2 linked regions of the Homo sapiens genome follow. The protein of the gene in region 1 interacts with the protein of each later gene in a biochemical or structural test. Each region holds a gene or a part of one and is shown on either strand. Other genes may lie near its edges. The genes, in order: KLK7 and CDSN.

Region 1 (7,713 bases):
TTCTCTACACAACACACTCCCCATTCTCCTCCCATTTTCTTCTAGTTACCAGAAGAAATTTTCTTCTAGTTACCAGAAGAAATTTTCTTCTAGTTTACTATTTCTAGTTACTAGAAGATTTCTTCTAGTCTACTTCTAGTTCCTAGAAGATTTCTTCTAGTTTAATATTCTTTCAAATCTCAGCTCATAGTCAATTCCTGGGTCTAACCCCTCTGGAAGTGCCTTCATAATACCCTGCACCTGTCTTTCAGAGCATGCCTTGTAGTTGTAATTTTACACTTGTTTATGAATTGACTGTATTTCTTTTACATGACACTATCAGCTCCTTGAGGGAAGAGACACTATCTAGGTTTGCACACCATTGTATCCTCATTGGTAGATAGCTACCACCCAATCCATATTTGTTAAATATATAAAGGATTGGTGTTAAACTATTGCATAAACAATCAACAACTTTTCCCTAAAAAATAAGAAATCCACTGTATAGAAGAAAAACTAAGAAAAAATTAAATTTAGATGAGAGGTAGTCAGCTATAGGATCCAAATTACTAATTTGTTTTTTTAAAAAAGACTATTCTAAAAATTAAATTGGTCATCTTCACATTAACAATGGCCAAAATGGGATATGGGCTGAAATGGGATATGGGGATGAGGGTTGGGAAGAGAGCTAAGACTGGAGGCATGGTTGAGTTTGTTGATTTATGTGGCTTCAAGATATGGAATCAAGTTAGAATCGGATTTGGATTTGTGGCTTGGGATCAGATTTGGGATCTGAGTCAATATTCTGATTGAACATTGAGGTCTTATAAAGATGATTTTGGCTACAAGGACCAAGCAACTCTAACCCAGAAGGGGAATCTGAAAAATCATGACATGAAGAGGCTCCATCGTTGGTTAATTCACCAGCTCAGTGACTTCATCAAAGACCCAGCTGATCCTCACCTCTCTGGTGGGCTACCTGCAGTGTTTTGACTTAGTCCTCTGGTCACTTCCCTCTGTGGTCCCTGGGGTGCTGCCACAGTTCCAGAATTTGCATCCAGAAAAGACACCATCTAGCAGAAGAAAAAAGTCCCCTTTCAGTGCCTCTTTTTGAAAATGAGAAAGTCTTTCCTAGAAGTGCCTCAGTGGTCTTCCCCTCCTCCTCATTGGCCAGAAGAACAGCACATGTCCATTTTCCAACTAATTAAGCAAACGAAATATGGCTTCAATGCTTGGTTCATTGAGGCTTATAGTCCTGATGAGGATAAAGTATTATCCAAACAAAATGGAGCCTCTGATAGAAAGGCAGAAGGAGTGAATGCCTGGGGACACAACAATAATGTCTACTATTATGGGTCAAATGTAGAATCGAGTTGGGGTGCCAGGCGTGGTGGCTCACACATGTAATCCCAGCACTTTGGGAGGCTGAGGAAGGCAGATCACCTGAGGTCGGGAGTTAGGGACCAGCCTGACCTACATGGAGAAACCCCATCTCTACTAAAAAAAAAAAAAAAAAAAATTAGCCAAGTGTGATGGTACATGCCTGTAATCCCAGCTACTCGGGAGGCTGAGTCAGGAGAATTGCTTGAACCTGGAAGGCGGAGATTGCAGTGAGCTGAGATCGCACCACTGCACTCCAGCCTGGGCAATAAGATCAAAACTCCATCTCAAAAACAAAAACAAAACAAAACAAAGCAAAAAAAAGAATTGAGTTGGGGTCAGGATTGAGATAAGTTTTAGGTCCAGGGTGGAGAAATAAATCCCATTTTGGGGATATAATTTAGAGGTTGAGGTCAATTCCAACTTTAGAAGTGTGTCCAACAATGGTTCCTGTCTTACTCAAAATAAAAGCCAAAGACCTTTCAGACCGCATGTCATCAGAGTCCTGTTATATTTCTGGCCTCATCACCTGCCCTCATCTCCTTTGGTCACTCTGTATTGGTCGCAGTGATTTGTCTGCTGAGGCACTTCAGATATGCTCCTTGGCTAACACACCTGCCTGCTCGCTTTGCCTGGAACTCACTACCTTCAAGCAGCCACCTGGATCCCTCCACCATCTCCTTCAAGACTTTGCTCAAATATCACCTTCACGTGGGGTCTTTGCAGCCAACCTTCCTGATATTATAACCTCAGGGATCCTCGAGGGTAGAGGGAATCAGTAACTCCCCAACCCTCTTCCTTGCTTGGATTTTCCCTTATAGCGCTTACAACCACCTAACAAACTCTACATTTTATTTGCTTATTTTTGTGCTGACCTGACAGTACAAAACAAAAACCTCTATGAAGACAGAAATTTTTCTCTGTTTTATCACTGCTGTGTCTCCAAGAGCCTGAATAGTTTCTGGCACAGAGTAGATGCTCAATGGATGCTGTTTGAATGACTACAATGAACAAAGATGAATGTACAAAGAAGTTCATCTCAGCATTATTATAATTAAAACTATCCAAGTGTATTTCAATTTGAGGCAGATGACATGCATCATGATACAAGTATAGTATGGAATATTACACAACCATTATAAAGGAAGGAAAAGTAATCTAAATGTACAAAGAGGGAAAAGTTTTCCTCTTTTTAAAAAATAAATGTTATTGTGTATATTTAAAGTGTACAATATGATCATATGCGATGTATATACATAGGACAATGATTACTATAGCTGAACAAATGAACATGTCCATCATCTCACATAGTTACCCATTTTCCTCCCCTGTGGCAAGAGCAGCTATAATCTACTCATTTAGCAAAAATCCTTGGCTGGGCGCGGTGGCTCAGGCCTATAATCGCAGTACTTTGGGAGGCCGAGGCCGGTGGATCACCTGAGGTCAGGAGTTGGAGAGCAGCCTGACCAACATGGTGAAACCCCATCTCTACTAAAAATACAAAAATTAGTTGGGCATGGTGGTGCACGCCTGTAATCCAGCTACTCAGGACTCTGAGGCAGGAGAATCACTTGAACACGGGGGAGTGGAGGTTGCAGTGAGCCGAGATCGTGCCATTGCACTCCAGCCTGGGTGACAGAGCCAGAGTCCATCAAAAAAAAAAAAAAATAAGAAAGATTCTTCTCTCCTCTATGTGTCCATGCAGTCTCATCATTTAGCTACCACTTGTAAGTAGGAACATGCCATATCTGGTTTTCTGTTCCTGCTTTAGTTTGTAAGGGTAATGGCCTCCAGCTCCATTCACGTCCCTACAAAGGACATGATCGTGTTCTTTTTTATGGCTACGTAGTATTCAATTGTGTATACGTACCACATTTTCTTAATCCAGTCTATCACTGATGGACATTTAGGTTGATTCCCTGTGTTTGCTGTTGTCAATAGTTCTACAATGAACGTACGTGTCCATGTGTCTTTAAACAGAATGATTTATATTCCTTTGGGTACACACACTGGGGCTTATGAGAGGGTGGAGAGTGGGAGGAAGGAGAGGATCAGAAAAAAATAACTAATGGGTACTAGGCTTAATACCTGGGTGATTAAATAATCTGTATAACAAACCCCCATGGCGCACGTTCACCTACGCAACAAACCTGCACATCCTGCACATGTACCCCCGAACTGAAAAGTTAAAAAAAGAAAAATAAATATTTGCTTATAAATTAATAAATGAAGCCCTCAAAAATGTTCTATTAGATAATGTTAAGTACAGACATTTTTGTTATAAATACATAATATACAAAGAAATCTATGTATAACATGATTAAAATGACCATAAGAACATAGATCCTAAACATGGCAAATATTAGTGGGGTGGGGTTAGGGAAAGCGTTGTTTTTAACTTACACCTCTCTGTTAGAGTTGGGAATGGGTTCAGGCGTAATTACAGGCACGACTGGGATCAGCTTGGACAAGTTCCCCCAGGCGGGCCAGAATTAGGATGTAGGGTCTAGGCCACCCCTGAGAGGGGGTGAGGGCAAGAAAATGGCCCCAGAAGCCGGGCGCAGTGGCTCACGCCTGTAATCCCAGCACTTTGCGGGGCCGAGGCGGGCACATCATGAGGTCAGGAGATCGAGACCATTCTGGCCAACATAGTGAAACCCGGTCTCTACTAAAAATACAAAAATTAGCTGGGAGTGGTGGTGCGTGCCTGTAATCCCAGGTACTCGGGAGGCTGAGGCAGGAGAATCACTTGAACCTGGGAGGCGGAGCTGGCAGTGAGCCGAGATCGCGCCACCGCACTCCAGCCTGGCGATAGAGAGAGACTCCATCCAAAAAAAAGAAAGGAAGGGAGGGAGGGAGGAGGGAAGAAAGAAAGAAAACCGCCCCAGAGAAGGACCCGAGCCAGAGCCTATTCTCTGAGCTCAGCGACTGCTTGAATCCCGCTCCTGCCCCTCAGACCCAGCGCACCGGGTCCCTCCCCCGAGAGCAGCCAGGAGGGACTGTGGGACCAGAATGTGCGGGGGCGCAGGAGCTGGGCACCGCCCGTCCTTCGGAGGGAGGGTGGAGAGAGAGTGCAGTGGTGCCAATTGCTCTCGCTGCGTCAGGGTTCCAGATAACCAGAACCGCAAATGCAGGCGGGGGTGTCCCAGAGTCGGCTCCGCCTGCACCCCAGGGCGCTGGGGCCGGGCATGGGGCGGGGGGTGATATAAGAGGACGGCCCAGCAGAGGGATGAAGATTTTGGAGCCCAGCTGTGTGCCAGCCCAAGTCGGAACTTGGATCACATCAGATCCTCTCGAGGTGAGAAGAGGCTTCATCAAGGGTGCACCTGTAGGGGAGAGGGTGATGCTGGCTCCAAGCCTGACTCTGCTCTCGAGAGGTAGGGGCTGCAGCCTAGACTCCCGGTCCTGAGCAGTGAGGGCCTGGAAGTCTGCAATTTGGGGCCTTTTAGGGAAAAACGAACTACAGAGTCAGAAGTTTGGGTTCCACAGGGAAGGGCAAGATCGGAGCCTAGATTCCTGGGTCTCTAGGGATCTGAAGAACAGGAATTTTGGGTCTGAGGGAGGAGGGGCTGGGGTTCTGGACTCCTGGGTCTGAGGGAGGAGGGCCTGGGGGCCTGGACTCCTGGGTCTGAGGGAGGAGGGGCTGGGGGTCTCGACTCCTGGGTCTGAGGGAGGAGGGGCTGGGGGCCTGGACTCCTGGGTCTGAGGGAGGAGGGGCTGGGACCTGGACTCCTAGGTCTGAGGGAGGAGGAGCTGGGGCCTGGACTCCTGGGTCTGAGGGAGGAGGGGCTGGGGCCTGGACTCCTGGGTCTGAGGGAGGAGGGGCTGGGGCCTGGACTCCTGGGTCTGAGGGAGGAGGGGCTGGGGCCTGGACTCCTGGGTCTGAGGGAGGAGGGGCTGGGGCCTGGACTCCTGGGTCTGAGGGAGGAGGGGCTGGGGCCTGGACTCCTGGGCCTGAGGGAGGAGGGACTGAGACCTGGACTCCTAGGTCTGAGGGAGGAGGGACTGGGACCTGGACTCCTGGGTCTGAGGGAGGAGGAGCTGGGGGCCTGGACTCCTGGGTCTGAGGGAGGAGGGGCTGGGGCCTGGACTCCTGGGTCTGAGGGAGGAGGGGTTGGGGCCTGGACTCCTGAGCCTGAGGGAGGAGGGACTTGGACCTGGACTCCTAGGTCTGAGGGAGGAGGAGCTGGGGGCCTGGACTCCTAGGTCTGAGGGAGGCGGGGCTGGGGGCCTGGACTCCTGGGTCTGAGGGAGGAGGGGTTGGGGCCTGGACTCCTGAGCCTGAGGGAGGAGGGACTTGGACCTGGACTCCTAGGTCTGAGGGAGGAGGAGCTGGGGGCCTGGACTCCTAGGTCTGAGGGAGGAGGGGCTGGGGGCCTGGACTCCTGGGTCTGAGGGAGGAAGGTGCTAGGGTCTGGACTCTTGGGTATGAGGGAGGAGGAGGTTAGGGGTCTGGACTTCTGAGTGTAAGGAAGGAGAGGCCAGAGAAAGGAATTTCTGGGTCTGAGGGAGGAGGGGCTGGGGTTCTGGACCCCTAGGTCTGAGGGAGGAGGGGCTGGGGCCTGGACCCCTGGGTCTGAGGGAGGAGGGGCTGGGGCCTGGACTCCTGGGTCTGTGGGGGGAGGGGCTGGGGCCTGGACCCCTGGGTCTGAGTGGGGAGGGGCTGGGCCTGAATGCTTTCTCCTTCTCAGCTCCAGCAGGAGAGGCCCTTCCTCGCCTGGCAGCCCCTGAGCGGCTCAGCAGGGCACCATGGCAAGATCCCTTCTCCTGCCCCTGCAGATCTTACTGCTATCCTTAGCCTTGGAAACTGCAGGAGAAGAAGGTGAAAGCTGGACTGGGAAGTCTGACCTCACCTCAGGGCCCCCACTGACCCTCTCCAAGGAGTCCCTGAGTCAGAACCCTTCCCTCCTCAAACAGCTTCCATCCTGGGAGGACCAGACTGTCGGCTGAAGCCCCCGCTCTTCCTGCTTCTGCTGACTCAGGGGGTCTCTGTCCCCTCCAGGCCCTGCCTCCTGTGCTCAGGGTCTCTCTGTGGTTCCCCAGATGAGATGCGCCTCCTGGGTTTCTGAGTGGGCTCCTTCTGTCTGTCTCTATCCCTATCTCTTGCTTTCTCTGTATTTCTCCACACATTTTCATCTGTCTCTGTCCATCTCTGACTCTGGGAATCCCTGAGGTGCAGCCTCAGCCTTCCCCTAATGCTAGCTACCCACGTGCTCCTCCATGTCTCCATCCAGCCCAGGGTGACAAGATTATTGATGGCGCCCCATGTGCAAGAGGCTCCCACCCATGGCAGGTGGCCCTGCTCAGTGGCAATCAGCTCCACTGCGGAGGCGTCCTGGTCAATGAGCGCTGGGTGCTCACTGCCGCCCACTGCAAGATGAAGTAGGTGCCGCCCAAGTCTCTGCTGGAGGTGCACCAGCGTCTCCAGCTCGCTATGGGGGTGGAAGGGCAGTCTTTCTGTGCCTACGGCTCTATTCTCCTCTCTCTGGGTCTCTGTCCTCCTCTCTCTGGGCCTCTGTACCCCCTCTCCCTGGGGCTCTGTCCCCCTCTCTCCCTGGCTCTCTGTCTCCCTCTCTCTGGGTCTCTGTCCCCCTCTCTCTGGATCTCTGTTCCCCTCTCTCTGTGTCTCTGTCCCCCATTCTCTCTAGGTCTCTGTTCCCCCTCCTCTCTCTCTGGGTCTCTGTCCCTCTCTCTCTGGTCTCTGTCCCCCTCTCTCTCTGGATCTCTGTCCCCCTCTCCCTGGGCCTCTGTACCCCCTCTCCCTGGGGCTCTGTCCCCCTCTCTCTGGGTCTCTGTCTGCCTTTCTCTCTGGATCTCTGTTCCCCTCTGTGTCTCTGTCCCCTTCTCTCTCCGGGTCTCTGTTCCCCCTCCTCTCTTTCTGGGTCTCTGTCCCTCTCTCTCTGGGTCTCTGTCCCCCTCTCTCTCTGGTCTCTGTTCCCCCTCCTCTCTCTCTGGTCTCTGTCCCTCTCTCTCTGGGTCTCTGTCACCCTCTCTCTCTGGGTCTCTGTCACCCTCTCTCTCTGGTCTCTGTTCCCCCTCCTCTCTCTGTGGGTCTCTGTCCCTCTCTCTCTGGGTCTCTGTTCCCCTCTCTCTCTGGTCTCTGTTCCCCCTCCTCTCTCTCTGGATCTCTGTCCCCCTCTCCCTGGGGCTCTGTCCCCCTCTCTCCCTGGCTCTCTGTCTTCCTCTCTCTGGGGCTCTGTCCCCCTCTCTCTCTGGTCTCTGTTCCCCTCTCTCTGGGTCTCTGTCCCTCTCTCTCTGGGTCTCTGTCCCTCTCTCTCTGGATCTCTGTCCCCCTCTCTCTCTGGGTCTCTGTTCCCCTCTCTCTGGGTCTCTGTCCCCTCTCCTCTCTCTGTG
Region 2 (3,149 bases), on another chromosome or scaffold:
TGCTTTCCTCCACAGGGACCTTGGCTAAGAGCATTGGCACCTTCTCAGACCCTTGTAAGGACCCCACGCGTATCACCTCCCCTAACGACCCCTGCCTCACTGGGAAGGGTGACTCCAGCGGTTTCAGTAGCTACAGTGGCTCCAGCAGTTCTGGCAGCTCCATTTCCAGTGCCAGAAGCTCTGGTGGTGGCTCCAGTGGTAGCTCCAGCGGATCCAGCATTGCCCAGGGTGGTTCTGCAGGATCTTTTAAGCCAGGAACGGGGTATTCCCAGGTCAGCTACTCCTCCGGATCTGGCTCTAGTCTACAAGGTGCATCCGGTTCCTCCCAGCTGGGGAGCAGCAGCTCTCACTCGGGAAACAGCGGCTCTCACTCGGGAAGCAGCAGCTCTCATTCGAGCAGCAGCAGCAGCTTTCAGTTCAGCAGCAGCAGCTTCCAAGTAGGGAATGGCTCTGCTCTGCCAACCAATGACAACTCTTACCGCGGAATACTAAACCCTTCCCAGCCTGGACAAAGCTCTTCCTCTTCCCAGACCTTTGGGGTATCCAGCAGTGGCCAAAGCGTCAGCTCCAACCAGCGTCCCTGTAGTTCGGACATCCCCGACTCTCCCTGCAGTGGAGGGCCCATCGTCTCGCACTCCGGCCCCTACATCCCCAGCTCCCACTCTGTGTCAGGGGGTCAGAGGCCTGTGGTGGTGGTGGTGGACCAGCACGGTTCTGGTGCCCCTGGAGTGGTTCAAGGTCCCCCCTGTAGCAATGGTGGCCTTCCAGGCAAGCCCTGTCCCCCAATCACCTCTGTAGACAAATCCTATGGTGGCTACGAGGTGGTGGGTGGCTCCTCTGACAGTTATCTGGTTCCAGGCATGACCTACAGTAAGGGTAAAATCTACCCTGTGGGCTACTTCACCAAAGAGAACCCTGTGAAAGGCTCTCCAGGGGTCCCTTCCTTTGCAGCTGGGCCCCCCATCTCTGAGGGCAAATACTTCTCCAGCAACCCCATCATCCCCAGCCAGTCGGCAGCTTCCTCGGCCATTGCATTCCAGCCAGTGGGGACTGGTGGGGTCCAGCTCTGTGGAGGCGGCTCCACGGGCTCCAAGGGACCCTGCTCTCCCTCCAGTTCTCGAGTCCCCAGCAGTTCTAGCATTTCCAGCAGCTCCGGTTTACCCTACCATCCCTGCGGCAGTGCTTCCCAGAGCCCCTGCTCCCCACCAGGCACCGGCTCCTTCAGCAGCAGCTCCAGTTCCCAATCCAGTGGCAAAATCATCCTTCAGCCTTGTGGCAGCAAGTCCAGCTCTTCTGGTCACCCTTGCATGTCTGTCTCCTCCTTGACACTGACTGGGGGCCCCGATGGCTCTCCCCATCCTGATCCCTCCGCTGGTGCCAAGCCCTGTGGCTCCAGCAGTGCTGGAAAGATCCCCTGCCGCTCCATCCGGGATATCCTAGCCCAAGTGAAGCCTCTGGGGCCCCAGCTAGCTGACCCTGAAGTTTTCCTACCCCAAGGAGAGTTACTCAACAGTCCATAAGAAGTCAACTGTTGTGTGTGTGCATGCCTTGGGCACAAACAAGCACATACACTATATCCCATATGGGAGAAGTCCAGTGCCCAGGCATAGGGTTAGCTCAGTTTCCCTCCTTCCCAAAAGAGTGGTTCTGCTTTCTCCACTACCCCAAGGTTGCAGACTCTCTCTTATCACCCCTTCCTCCTTCCTCTTCTCAAAATGGTAGATTCAAAGCTCCTCTCTTGATTCTCTCCTACTGTTTAAATTCCCATTCCACCACAGTGCCCCTCAGCCAGATCACCACCCCTTACAATTCCCTCTACTGTGTGGAAATGGTCCATTGAGTAACACCCCCATCAGCTTCTCAACTGGGAAACCCCTGAAATGCTCTCAGAGCACCTCTGACGCCTGAAGAAGTTATACCTTCCTCTTCCCCTTTACCAAATAAAGCAAAGTCAAACCATCATCTGGAAACAGTGGCCACTTTTCACTGACCTTTCTTCGACATCTAGTCAACCCACCCAATATGCCACTGGGCTCTCGCTCCCAATTCCACCCCACCCTCCATTACAGAGCTCACCACGCCCTCCTAGATCACCGTCCCCAACACACCCATTGCCTCTCAAGGCCCTTATCTCAGCCCCTTCCTGTGGCCACTTCCCTCAGTGCTCAGATGATTCCCTGGGTGAGGGAGACACTGGGGCACCCTCAGAGGTTGAAGCAGGCTCCCTGCTGTCCCTGGATCCTGGACAGATGGCTCAGTAAACTGTGGGGACTAGGTGCAGACTTTTTGCCTTCTTGGAGTCCTGGGTCTCCTCTGAGAGTCTGGGTGGTGCTCTTCCTACGCCTCTAGAGGTCTCTGTGTTCCTCATTTTCCTTCAAAAGCGGGCTGTGTTTCTCTTCTACCTTCCAGCTGCTCCCACAGAGGAGGAAGACAATAAATATTTGTTGAACTGAAAGCAGAGATTGCCTGGCCTCCCAGATCCTTCCGCCATTTCCCTCCTCTCTCATTGCTCCAGGAAATCCATTCTCTTCCCATTCCTCATTCACCGTGGGGTCCCCCTTCCCCTTATTTAGGGCCCTCAGTGTTTCCTCTCCCTCCCCTCCCCTCCCCTCCCCACCCAAACTCCTTTTCTTCCACCATTAGCATTCCTCACCTTCTAGATGCCATCCTCTCTGGGAGTCATGAGTCTCGATTTCCTGGGTTTCTGGGACACCTGGAAGCTTGGGAAGGCTGGGACACAACAACTCCAACCAGATTCCTGTCAGCTGAGTAGGAGGCCAGTTGGGCGTTGTTCCTGGAGCTGGGGGTGGAGAGAGTAAAGGACTGAGAGGATGGGAGCAGGGCAGGGAGTGCAGCCAAGCAGGGTGACTCACTGGCCTAGATCAAGAGGCCCAGCCTGTGGCAGAACAGAGCTGCCGGTGGTCTCTCCATCTTCACACTCCCTGCTCTGCTGGGGTCCAGAGTGAGAGTGTGAGCAACATGGCTCTCAGGTGAGGGCTGAGAAGGCAGAGTGCCCCAGTGGGAAAGAGGAGTCGCTTCCACTGGAGAAGAGAGAGAAAGTGGAGTGTGTGGTGGGGTCCATGCGACTTAAGTCCTGAGACAGGCAGGGAGAGGCTGAGGCGGACGAAGTTCCCGCATCCCAAGGAGGG

Evidence for each region.
Region 2: of the proteins of KLK7 (region 1) and CDSN, one has a biochemical effect on the other in vitro, tested with the Homo sapiens proteins (one study listed by BioGRID).

Annotation. Positions count from the first base shown.
Region 1 is NC_000019.10:50,980,795-50,988,507, reverse strand, and holds the start of KLK7 (kallikrein-7 isoform 1 preproprotein), read left to right. Parts: upstream 1-4,657; intron 4,658-4,692; exon of another isoform or gene 4,693-4,736; intron 4,737-6,050; coding exon of another isoform or gene 6,051-6,108; coding exon 6,109-6,181; intron 6,182-6,593; coding exon 6,594-6,741; intron 6,742-7,713. UniProt on the Homo sapiens protein: May catalyze the degradation of intercellular cohesive structures in the cornified layer of the skin in the continuous shedding of cells from the skin surface. Specific for amino acid residues with aromatic side chains in the P1 position.
Region 2 is NC_000006.12:31,114,396-31,117,544, reverse strand, and holds the end of CDSN (corneodesmosin precursor), read left to right. Parts: intron 1-15; coding exon 16-1,520; 3' UTR 1,521-2,458; downstream 2,459-3,149. UniProt on the Homo sapiens protein: Important for the epidermal barrier integrity.